3 linked regions of the Homo sapiens genome follow. The protein of the gene in region 1 purifies or fractionates together with the protein of each later gene. This does not show direct contact. Each region holds a gene or a part of one and is shown in the gene's direction. Other genes may lie near its edges. The genes, in order: TECTA, PGAP1 and ZBTB43.

Region 1 (3,737 bases):
TAAGCCCCTTATAAGCAGTATCACACTTCATCTTATGATCCTCATTTTACAGATGAGAAAGCTGAGGAGCAGAGAGGCTAAGTAACTTCCACAGGGACACCTAACCGTGAAGGGAGATTCACACCTGCCTGGCTGGCTCCAGAATCTGCGCTCTTAACCCTTGCACCCTACTAACTCCCCTACCTATACATGCCAGTCTATGTGGGGTGATGTAAGGGGTGACTCCCACCCCTCTGACTTGCTCTGAAAAACCCATCATTAGGCACCCAGACTTATAGATCCTTAGCTCTAGAAGGAATATTGAGAATTATCTAGTGCAACTCCTCATTTCACATGAAGACACTTACTAAAAGGGTAAGTGAAGGTCCCACAGCTAATTGTTGCAGAACGGGGATGCAACATGCATTTTATGTCACCTGAAGTCTAGTTTGGAAAACAAAAGCCAACACAGTACTGCCCAAGGAGATAATAAAATACGCATCCACAAACTGGAAGGGATGTGTTTTTATTCTCATTGCCACATTGGCAGAGATTTATTTATTAATAGACTAGTAGGAAGTAGATAGAAGAATGGACAGCTAGATCATTAGAGATATGCTATGTGCCCTCGAGGAGCTGGGACACAGAAAAAGTAAGACTGGAAGAGAAAAGCAGCCAGAAAGGCAGGGAAGGAGGGGAGCTATTTTGAAAGGTACCAAAACAGAGATGCCAGGCGGCAGGAGGGAGCCACGTATCTAAGACGATTTTTGCTCACACTTTAGTTTCGTTTGTTTTGGGCTAGCTTTGGGTCCAGAACACACAAATAAACAGCAAATGGGTCTAATCAGGGGAATCCAAAAAGAAATAAATAAAGAAGCCCATGACAAATCGGTTGGTATCTTTGTGGGTTCCATCAGCTTCTTGACCTCTCTCAAAAGGCTAGCAATAGGGCAGACCGTGTCTTTATCCCACAGCCTAGGAAATGGAAAGTGCTCTGTGTGTCTCTGGAATTGATAAGAATGACTTGATTTTTCAGTTGAATGGTCAGGAAGTGGAATTGCCTTTTTTCCATCCTTCGGGGAAGCTGGAAATTTATCGAAACAAAAACAGTACGACAGTGGAGTCCAAGGGCGTGGTGACTGTCCAGTACTCAGACATAGGTCTATTGTACATCCGGCTGTCCACCACATACTTCAATTGCACAGGGGGCTTGTGCGGCTTCTACAATGCCAACGCCAGTGACGAGTTCTGTCTCCCCAACGGCAAGTGCACGGACAACCTGGCAGTGTTCCTGGAAAGCTGGACAACTTTCGAGGAGATCTGCAATGGAGAGTGTGGGGACCTGCTGAAGGCCTGCAACAATGACTCGGAGCTGCTCAAGTTTTATCGAAGCCGCTCCAGGTGCGGCATCATCAACGACCCCTCCAACAGCTCCTTCCTGGAGTGCCATGGGGTGGTGAACGTCACTGCCTATTACCGCACCTGCCTTTTCCGCCTGTGCCAGAGTGGGGGCAATGAGTCAGAGCTCTGTGACTCTGTGGCCCGGTATGCAAGCGCCTGCAAGAATGCGGACGTGGAGGTGGGGCCCTGGCGGACCTATGACTTCTGCCGTAAGTTGGGGTTGGATTCTGGGAGAGGCTTTCTAGCTGGGAAATAGGTGCCATGCTGGGCCTTACTCAGGACTTCCCTTCCAGGTGGGACTGAGCTCAAGGGTGATGTTAATTACTGTGTATACCTACCCTAGTCTGATGTGTCCTCCCAAAGACTCATCACCCCAAACCGGAGAGCCTCTCATCTTTACTTTTTTTCCTAACTGCACAGTACCTCCTCACTGCAGAACAATTAACCATCCTATTTGCATGTGGTTTTATCTAGCAGAGGGTAGAGGCACCATGTCAAAGGACTAGAAATCTTTGTGATGGCTCTGTAGGTGCCTTCTCCCTTGGCAAAGAAGAGCCCCATTGATTTTGATAGGAAGTGATCGGCCAGGGCACCTTTGGGGCATGGAGATTAGCATGCTCCCCAGGGCAAACCTGACAATGGGTATTAAGAGAGTCCTGTGTTGCTGGCTTTTAATTTTGTCCCGAAAGTATCTGACCCCTCTCAGCAATGCAGTGGCAAGTACTAGTAGTAATTAGAAAACTTTCTGGGAAGACCTGATACGTAACACCCTTGATTATCAGGGAAGCCACAGGGAGAAGTAACATGGCAGAAAGCAGGACTCACTCGTGGAGCAAGAACTGCCTCATCTGGCCTTCAGCACACAACCCTCTCCCACCACAAAGGTGGGCCCCACACCAAAGCCAAGGCCACCATTAAGATTCCATCCCCGGCCGGGCATGGTGGCTCACGCCTGGAATCCCAGCACTTTGGGAGGCAAAGGCAGGTGGATCACGAGGTCAGGAGATCGAGACCATCCTGGCTAACATGGGGAAACCCTGTCTCTACTAAAAATACAAAAAATTAGCCGGGCGTGGTGGCGGGGGCCTGTGGTCCCAACTATTTGGAAGGCTGAGGCAGGAGAATCGCTTGTACCTGGGCTGCGGAGCTTGCAGTGAGCCCAGATCACGCCACTGCACTCCAGCCTGGGCGACAGAGCAAGACTCCATCTCAAAAAAAAAAAAAAAAAAAAAAGGATTCATCCCTGACGGCTATTTATCTGTCCTCCGTTTTTAATTGGCAAAAGTATTTTTTAATTTGAAATAATTTTAGACTTACAGAAAAGTTGCAGGAATAAGACAGTCTACCATTCTCTCAGATTCCCGAATCGTTAACATTGTAACACATTTTCTTTCTAATTTTGTCTCTGAAAATATACTCACTCTTTTTCTAAACCACTTGAGAGTAAGTTGCTGTCATTATGCCTGTTTGTACCTAAATATTTCAGTGTGTTTCCTAAGAATAAGCACATTTATATGACCATAACATAATCATTAAAATCAGGATATTGCCATTGATACAATACTATTATGTAATCTGAAGACCATGTTCATATTTTGTTAGTGGTTCCAATAATGTCTTTTACAGCCAAAACAAAAAACAAACCCTGGAATCCAATCCAGGATCACATGTTGCATCTTATTATGATGTCTCTGTAGACGCCTTTAATCTGGAGTAGGTCCTCAGTCTTTGACTTTCATTGTCTTAGCGTTCTTGAAGAGTACAGGCCAGTTATTTTGCAGACTGTTTCTCAGTTTGAGTTGGCTTATATTTCTTCCTGGTTCCATTGAAATTATGCATTTTTGGCAGGAATACCACAAAAGCAATGATGCGTCTTCTCAATGTGTCATATCTGGAGGCCTCTGATGTTGGTTTGTCCCGTTACACTGAGCATGATAGATTCGATCGCTTGCTTAAGGTAGTGTCTGTCAGATTTCTCCATTGAAAGTTACTGTTTTTTAATCATATAATTAATACATATTTTTCAGGGAAATACTTTAAATTTAGGTAGCTATTCTATTCCTTGAACTTGCATACACTAGATTTAGTATCCAGTGATGATTTTTGTCTGAATCATTTATTACTGTTTGTGAAATGGCAATTTTTTTCTAATTCAATGGCTCCTGCATTCATTAGTTGGCATTCTACTGTAAAGAGATGTCCTTTTCACCCATTTGTTTCTTTTTATTTGTTTAGATGACTCATGGATTCCTACTTAACCGATTGTATCTGTTATCATAATTTGTTTTATGCTCAAATTGTTCCATATACGGCCAGTGGGAGTCCCCTCCAGCAATGGTTTCTGTTGACATTTGCTT
Region 2 (3,737 bases), on another chromosome or scaffold:
ATTGCACTATTTCAAATTTGCGTAATTCAGAATTGCATATGGTGAGGCTGAATTGTATTAATAAAACTGATTAAAGTGAAACTACTTTTTTTTAAATGTAGAAAATAGAACTTCCAAAGAAACTGGCAAAACGCTATCCCGCATATGAGTTGTATCTTTATGGAGAGGGATCCTATGCTGAAGAACACAAAATTCTCCCTTTGACGGGTATTCCAGTTCTCTTTCTTCCTGGTAATGCTGGAAGTTATAAGCAAGGTAAGTCTTACTGGAAGTAAATTTTGAAAGCTATAAAATTCAACTCAAGAATTTGAATCATATCCATACTCGGTGAATCAAATAAAGTAAATGAAATGCATGCTGTGTGTGAAGTGCTGTGCTGGGCTTACAGAGAGACCAAAATATAATATTTTCTCTGAGAGAGAATAATGTGAGAAATACTTAGAAAAGTTGAAGACCACTTTGCAAAGAGAGGGGTACAAAGAATAAGATAGAGTAGGATGGGATAAGTAGATGATAAAGGGGAACCCCTTGGGGAATCAGCAGAGGAAACACATTTATGTTGGAAATGGAGGGTAAAGAGAACAGAACCTTAAGCATTGATTAGGGAAGTAAATCAGTGACTAATGTTATGCAGAACAAGAGAGATTCGTTTTCTTCTTTTGGAGTTATTTAAGTTAGAGAGATTTGGAAGTACTGGGGGGAACATAGAAAGGTGAGATAGGGAAGTTACGTGTACAGATTCCAAATTGATGCTGGCTTGGAGATACAGCAGTTATTTCTGGCGTAACAGCCAAATAACCTGGAATTAATTTCGTTTTAAACTAAAACCTGCTTTCTTGTTATTTGATGGACTAGAATTGTTATGTAATGAGACTAGAATTGTTTCAACATGTGCAATTATTTACGTGTTTATTCATCTAGCACGTGTCTACAGGTATCTACCATGAGCCAGGCTGTATTCCAGGTATTAGGGATCCAGAGCATATCAAGACAAAGTCCCTCTCTCATCAAATTTATATGCTTATCAGGAAGACAGCAATCAAACAAATATGTCAGTAATGTTAAAAGCTAGAAACAAAAACAGACTCAGGAGGTAGAAGATAAAAGGGTCAGGAAGTGGCTAGTTTAGATGAGGTGGTCAGGAAAGGCCATTGTGAGGAGATGACATTTGAGGAGATGCTTGACTGAGGGAAGGTCCTGAGGCAGGAACGTGTTTTGTGCATTGGAGGCTATCGTGACTAGAGAAAGTAAAAAGAGATAAGAATGGAAAAGTAACCACGGGCCATATCATATAAGCTGTGGAAAAGACTTTGAATGAGAAACTGTTGGAGAGCTTTGGGTAAGAAAAATATAACCTGATTTTTAAAAGTAATCTTTGTATTTGAAATATTACATACAGAGAAACACATAGAACATAGATATTTGGTTACAAATTATTATAAAGTGAACACCCGTGAAACCAAAACCCTAGTCAAGAAGTAGATTACCAGTAACCTGGAAACCCCTTCTGTGCCCCTTCATGATTAAAACTTTGTTCCCTTCTTTCTTGACAGAATCACAGTCCTAATGTTAAGAGAGTAATTTCCTTAACTTTCTTTGTAGTTTTAATGCAATCTATGTATATGAGGCTGTTTTTAAATTTTGTAATATGAATATAGTCATTCAGTATGTATTATTTTGTGTCTGGCTTCTTTCACTCAGCATTATCTTTAACATTCATCCAAGTTGTTGTGTGAGCTGTGATTCATTCATTTTCCTTACTCTGTATTATTCTGTAGTATGACTATACCATGGTTTGTCCATTCTGTCTTTGGACAGAATAAATGTTTACATTTATTGGCAATTACAAATAATGAATATTATTCCATATGTTTCCTGGAGCACATAAACCTGTGCTTCTGTAAGCTAGATACCCAAGAGTGTAATTCCATGTTACAGGTTATGTGTATCTTTTTAATCTTTACTGATTGTGCTAATTTATATTCCTAAAAGCAGTATATTTTACCTTCCTTTGCTCCACATCCTTTTACAACACCAGAATTGTCAGACATTAAATTTTTAAGCAACCTGGTAGGTGTGATTTACTTTTAAAAAAAGTTGCTCTGGCTTCACTATGAAGAGAATTTCCTTTGAAGGGCAAGAATGGAAGCAGGAAAGATGCTAAAACATCATAAGTCATCAGAGAACTATAAATAAAAAATGAGATAGCACTTCATACCTCCTAGGATAGTTATAATAAGAAAGATGGATAACAACAAGTGTTGGTGAAGATGTGGAGAAATTGGAACCCTCATACATTGTTGGTGGAAATGTAAAATGTGCAGCCACTTTGGAAAACTGTTTGGGAGTTCCTCAGAATATTGAACATAGAGCTCTCATGTGGCCCAAAAATTCCACTCCTAGGTATCTACCCAAGAAAAATAAACATATACCCACACAAAAACTTGTATATAAATGTTCATAGCAGCATATAATAACCAAAAGGTGGAAATAATTTAAATGACCATCAGCTGATAAATAGATGAATCAAATATGACATATTCATATAATGGAATATTATTCAATAAAAAAGAGGAATGAAGTACTGATACATGTCACAACATGGGTGAACCTTGAAAACATGCTATGTGAAAGAAGCCAGTTCCAAAAGGCCACGTATTATATGAGATATCCAAAATAGGCAAACCCGTAGAGACAGAAAGTAGATCAGTGGTTGCTAGGCCTAGGATTTGGGAGGAGTGAAGAAATGGGGAGTGACTGCCAGTAGGCACAGAGTTTTGTTTTTGAAACGATTAAAAAATATCTTATGTTAGATTTCAGAGATGGTTGTAAAATATATACCAGAGATGGTGAATATACTAAAAACCATCGAATTTTACAGTTTTATATAGTGAGTTGTATAATATGTGGATTATAATGTATCTATAGTATATGTTTTTACAAAATGAAATGGCAAACAGGTATTTTGTTTGCTAAACCATATGCTACAATTTTTGTGCCACCTAATATAAGCAATTTATAATATATTTTTTAAAAAGATTTGCAAAACAACAACAAGAACAAAAAGAGTGGAAGCAGAGAGACCAGTAAAGAACCTGTTAGAGTAGTTCAGATAAGAGATAATAGTGTTTGGATTAGGACAATAGTGGTGGGAATGGTGAGAAATTTCAACTGGGGATAGATTTGGAAGGTACATTATGAAAGCGCTTACTGATGGATTGGATGTCCTGTGTAGGAGAAAAAGACAAATCAAGCGTGAGTATCTAAACCAAGTGATGAATGGATATTTCTTGTAGGAACCTTGTCATTCTTAAAAACCTCAATAAGTGTGGCAAAATTTATATGTCTTATTCTTCAAAGAATCCTGCCCTTTTAGCTATTGTTGCTCCTACCAAAGGAAAAGAAGGTAGAGAGTGAGTGATCTGTTTGCTTTTTGTTTATTTAATTTTAAAAATATTTATGACACACTTACTGCATTCAAGGCATACAGTTGCTAGATTAGTTTGTTCTAAATTGGTGCTATTAATGAATTTCATCCTGAAATAGGTGGTTTATATTCGTGATGCAGGATAAGGTTATTTACTAAGAAATTCTGAAGAAAGAATGGATGAAACCTGTAAATATTGTTTAATGTGCACTTCACTCTTTTCCTCTGCAGTTCGTTCTATTGGCTCCATTGCACTTAGAAAAGCAGAGGACATTGACTTCAAGTACCACTTTGACTTCTTTAGTGTGAA
Region 3 (2,671 bases), on another chromosome or scaffold:
ATTAGCAGAGCATTTTCTGCCTGTTTGGAAGGTTTGATGTCCTGTTTCTCATTGAAGACTATTTACATGATCATTAGGACATTGCAGGAGAAGTCTGAGAGGTAAAAATACAGATATTCTGGGAGAGTCGTGGTCCTTCAGTTCTGCTGAAATCAGCATAGTGCCCTTGTCATGAGGAAGAGTTTCTGTTCAGCCAAGAGTGGTGGCACGCTTGGGTGGTAGTTTTGGAAGCAGTCAGTTGTGCTAGGACTTATTTAATATGTTGTGAAGAGAAGAGTGTCTTCTTGAAAGCCTTATGTGTCCATCAGCTACTAAATGTAGAACTTAAATAAGTTGCTCACATCTGTTCTTTTAGTGTTTTGTGGTATTTGAGGTTTTGGCAAAAATTGGGATTTTTTTATCAGGCAGCCAGAGCCTGGGAGGTGGTAGGGTGTCTGAAATGCTGGCCATGTTCAGAGAGGCAGGAGAAGGGGGTTGCTTTCATTTGAATATTAAAAGTGAATTTTTGTAAACTCTGGTTTTTACCTTTTTTTCATCCCCACGTTGAGTTGGAGGAATAGTCTCTTCTCTTCACCTCAATATAGCTTTAGAAAATCTTTATCCTTCCTAATAAGTTTGGATGGTTGTGGGTAACATTGTTCAAACAATCTTTCAGGGATCACGTCAATGGCCTACAACCAAGCTATTTGTCCCCTACTTTGAGTCTTAACTGTGGTTTTTCTTCAATCCCCATGGGAAAGGGCTTCAAGGCACCACCAGTGGTATTTAATATTCATACTTGGGGCCAGGCATGGTGGCTCACGCCTGTAATCCCAGCACTTTGGGAGGCCGAGATGGGTGGATCACCTGAGGTCAGGAGTTTGTGACCAGCCTGACCAACATAGTGAAACCCCATCTCTACTAAAAATACAAAAATTAGCCAGGCGTGGTGGCGCACACCTGTAATCCCAGCTACTCGGGAGGCGGAGGCAGGAGAATCACTTGAACCTGGGAGGCGGAGGTTGCAGTGAGCCGCGATTGCACCACCACACTCCAGCCTGCGCGACAGATCGAGACTCTGTCTCAAAAAAAAAAAAAAAATTCATACTTATGCCATGCTTTTACCTTTAGATACACACGTTACAGTAATCCACGTGGTGAAGTGCATGTCACCGTTAACTAAGGAAGGACTGCGGTAACTTACCCTGCAGGGCTGTAGGTTGCCTGCAGGCGCTCCAGGCCCCCAGCCTGTTGATTCCGATTTCTAGGTCTCATCTTCCTCTGGTCCCTTTTGGCCACTACTTTAAAAGCTTGCCCAAAGGGATCCCCTCCATTCTAGTGGGCATTTGCTGAACTAACCTGCCCCTAAGGCTGGCTTCTAACCACCGGGGAAAGCTGCTTAGCCTCCAGGGCTCCCTCCTTGAGAGGCTCACACACCCCCAAGCTGCTGTGGAGTGAATTTGAGACGGAGCAGAAGCTGCAAAGCTGTGCTTTCCCTGGGGAAGGGGATGTGCTGCGGCCTCCTGGGTGGGCGTGGAGAGGGCGCCATCACAACGAGTCCAGGTTTTTGCTTTTGGAAGGTCTCTGATAATTTAGGGGTGCTGGAAACCAGCACTGTGTTATCCCCAATCCCTCCTGTGCCACCAGTTTTGTGATTTAGGTTGCTTTAGTGGGTGACTAACTTTTGTTCAGTGAAACCAGGGTTTGTTTGGGGTTTTTTTCTTTGCTACTTACATATTTAAAGGTACAAGTTTCTTATTTCAAATCTCTACTGATAGTGCCCTATGGGGAGATGCTGGAACACATTTTGCAAATGTGACTTTTTTTTTTTTTTTTAATTTTTGCTTGAAGCCTGTGTCATGTTAGTTGCTGCTGCCTTCTTTCCTTTTGTGAGGTTCCCAATGTTTCGTCCAGAAAAGTACTTTATTTATGCAAGTCAGGTGACTCTTAGGCCACAAAACCATTTGATGATAAACAGATTATCATTAGGTGCATATCTTATTGATATTTTGTGAAATGTTATGCCTATGTTGCAAAAGTTGAATAGTTTTGTCTTTATATATTGCTGTCTTCAGTGTACAGCATGGTTTTACTTAATTGAATGTTAATGTTTAATATTTTCTTCTTATAGAAGAGATCATGCCCTTTTGTATGACATGTTTTAATAAATGTTATCTGTCAACTTTGTAAAAGTTTTGTTTTTCACTATGAGTAGATGACCACATCTTGTTTGACTCTGGGTTTTGCCACCTGAGAATACAGTTATATGGTGGCGTTTTGGTAAGTAAATGCCAAATAATCTGATCCAATGGGCAGTGAGTGACTGCCAGGCAGGCATTTATAGTAATATTTTAGACCCCCACTGGCCCCTTCGGGTACTTGGGGTGTGCTAGAGGCTCTCTGTGCCCCCTGGGCCCCCTTCCTGCTATGCACTTCTCTCCAGGAAGCTGGCCACGGTGGACCTGTCCTGGCTTCCGGTCAGGATCCAGAGACACTCTGGGTGGAGCCTGGCAGAACAGAGAACAGAGAAGTCAGGGAATTCATTCCCCTGGCTCCTTCCCGCCAGCTGTGGGTTGGCGGTGGCTGGGCTCCTCTGCCAAGGCCCACAGGTCCTGTCAGGCAACTTCTGGGGTTTAGTAGCCACACCTTCCCCTTGTCCCCTCAAGCCAGTCTCAGTCCTGACTCCCTGCTT

What was found.
Region 2: the proteins of TECTA (region 1) and PGAP1 purify together in Homo sapiens (affinity purification with mass spectrometry; one large-scale study listed by BioGRID and IntAct). This does not show direct contact.
Region 3: the proteins of TECTA (region 1) and ZBTB43 purify together in Homo sapiens (affinity purification with mass spectrometry; one large-scale study listed by BioGRID and IntAct). This does not show direct contact.

Annotation. Positions count from the first base shown.
Region 1 is NC_000011.10:121,128,623-121,132,359, forward strand, and holds part of TECTA (alpha-tectorin precursor), read left to right. Parts: intron 1-1,015; coding exon 1,016-1,589; intron 1,590-3,737. Other genes in the region: TBCEL-TECTA protein, read left to right, coding at 1,016-1,589. UniProt on the Homo sapiens protein: One of the major non-collagenous components of the tectorial membrane. The tectorial membrane is an extracellular matrix of the inner ear that covers the neuroepithelium of the cochlea and contacts the stereocilia bundles of specialized sensory hair cells.
Region 2 is NC_000002.12:196,916,515-196,920,251, reverse strand, and holds part of PGAP1 (GPI inositol-deacylase), read left to right. Parts: intron 1-101; coding exon 102-255; intron 256-3,658; coding exon 3,659-3,737.
Region 3 is NC_000009.12:126,836,040-126,838,710, forward strand, and holds the end of ZBTB43 (zinc finger and BTB domain-containing protein 43), read left to right. Parts: 3' UTR 1-2,171; downstream 2,172-2,671. UniProt on the Homo sapiens protein: May be involved in transcriptional regulation.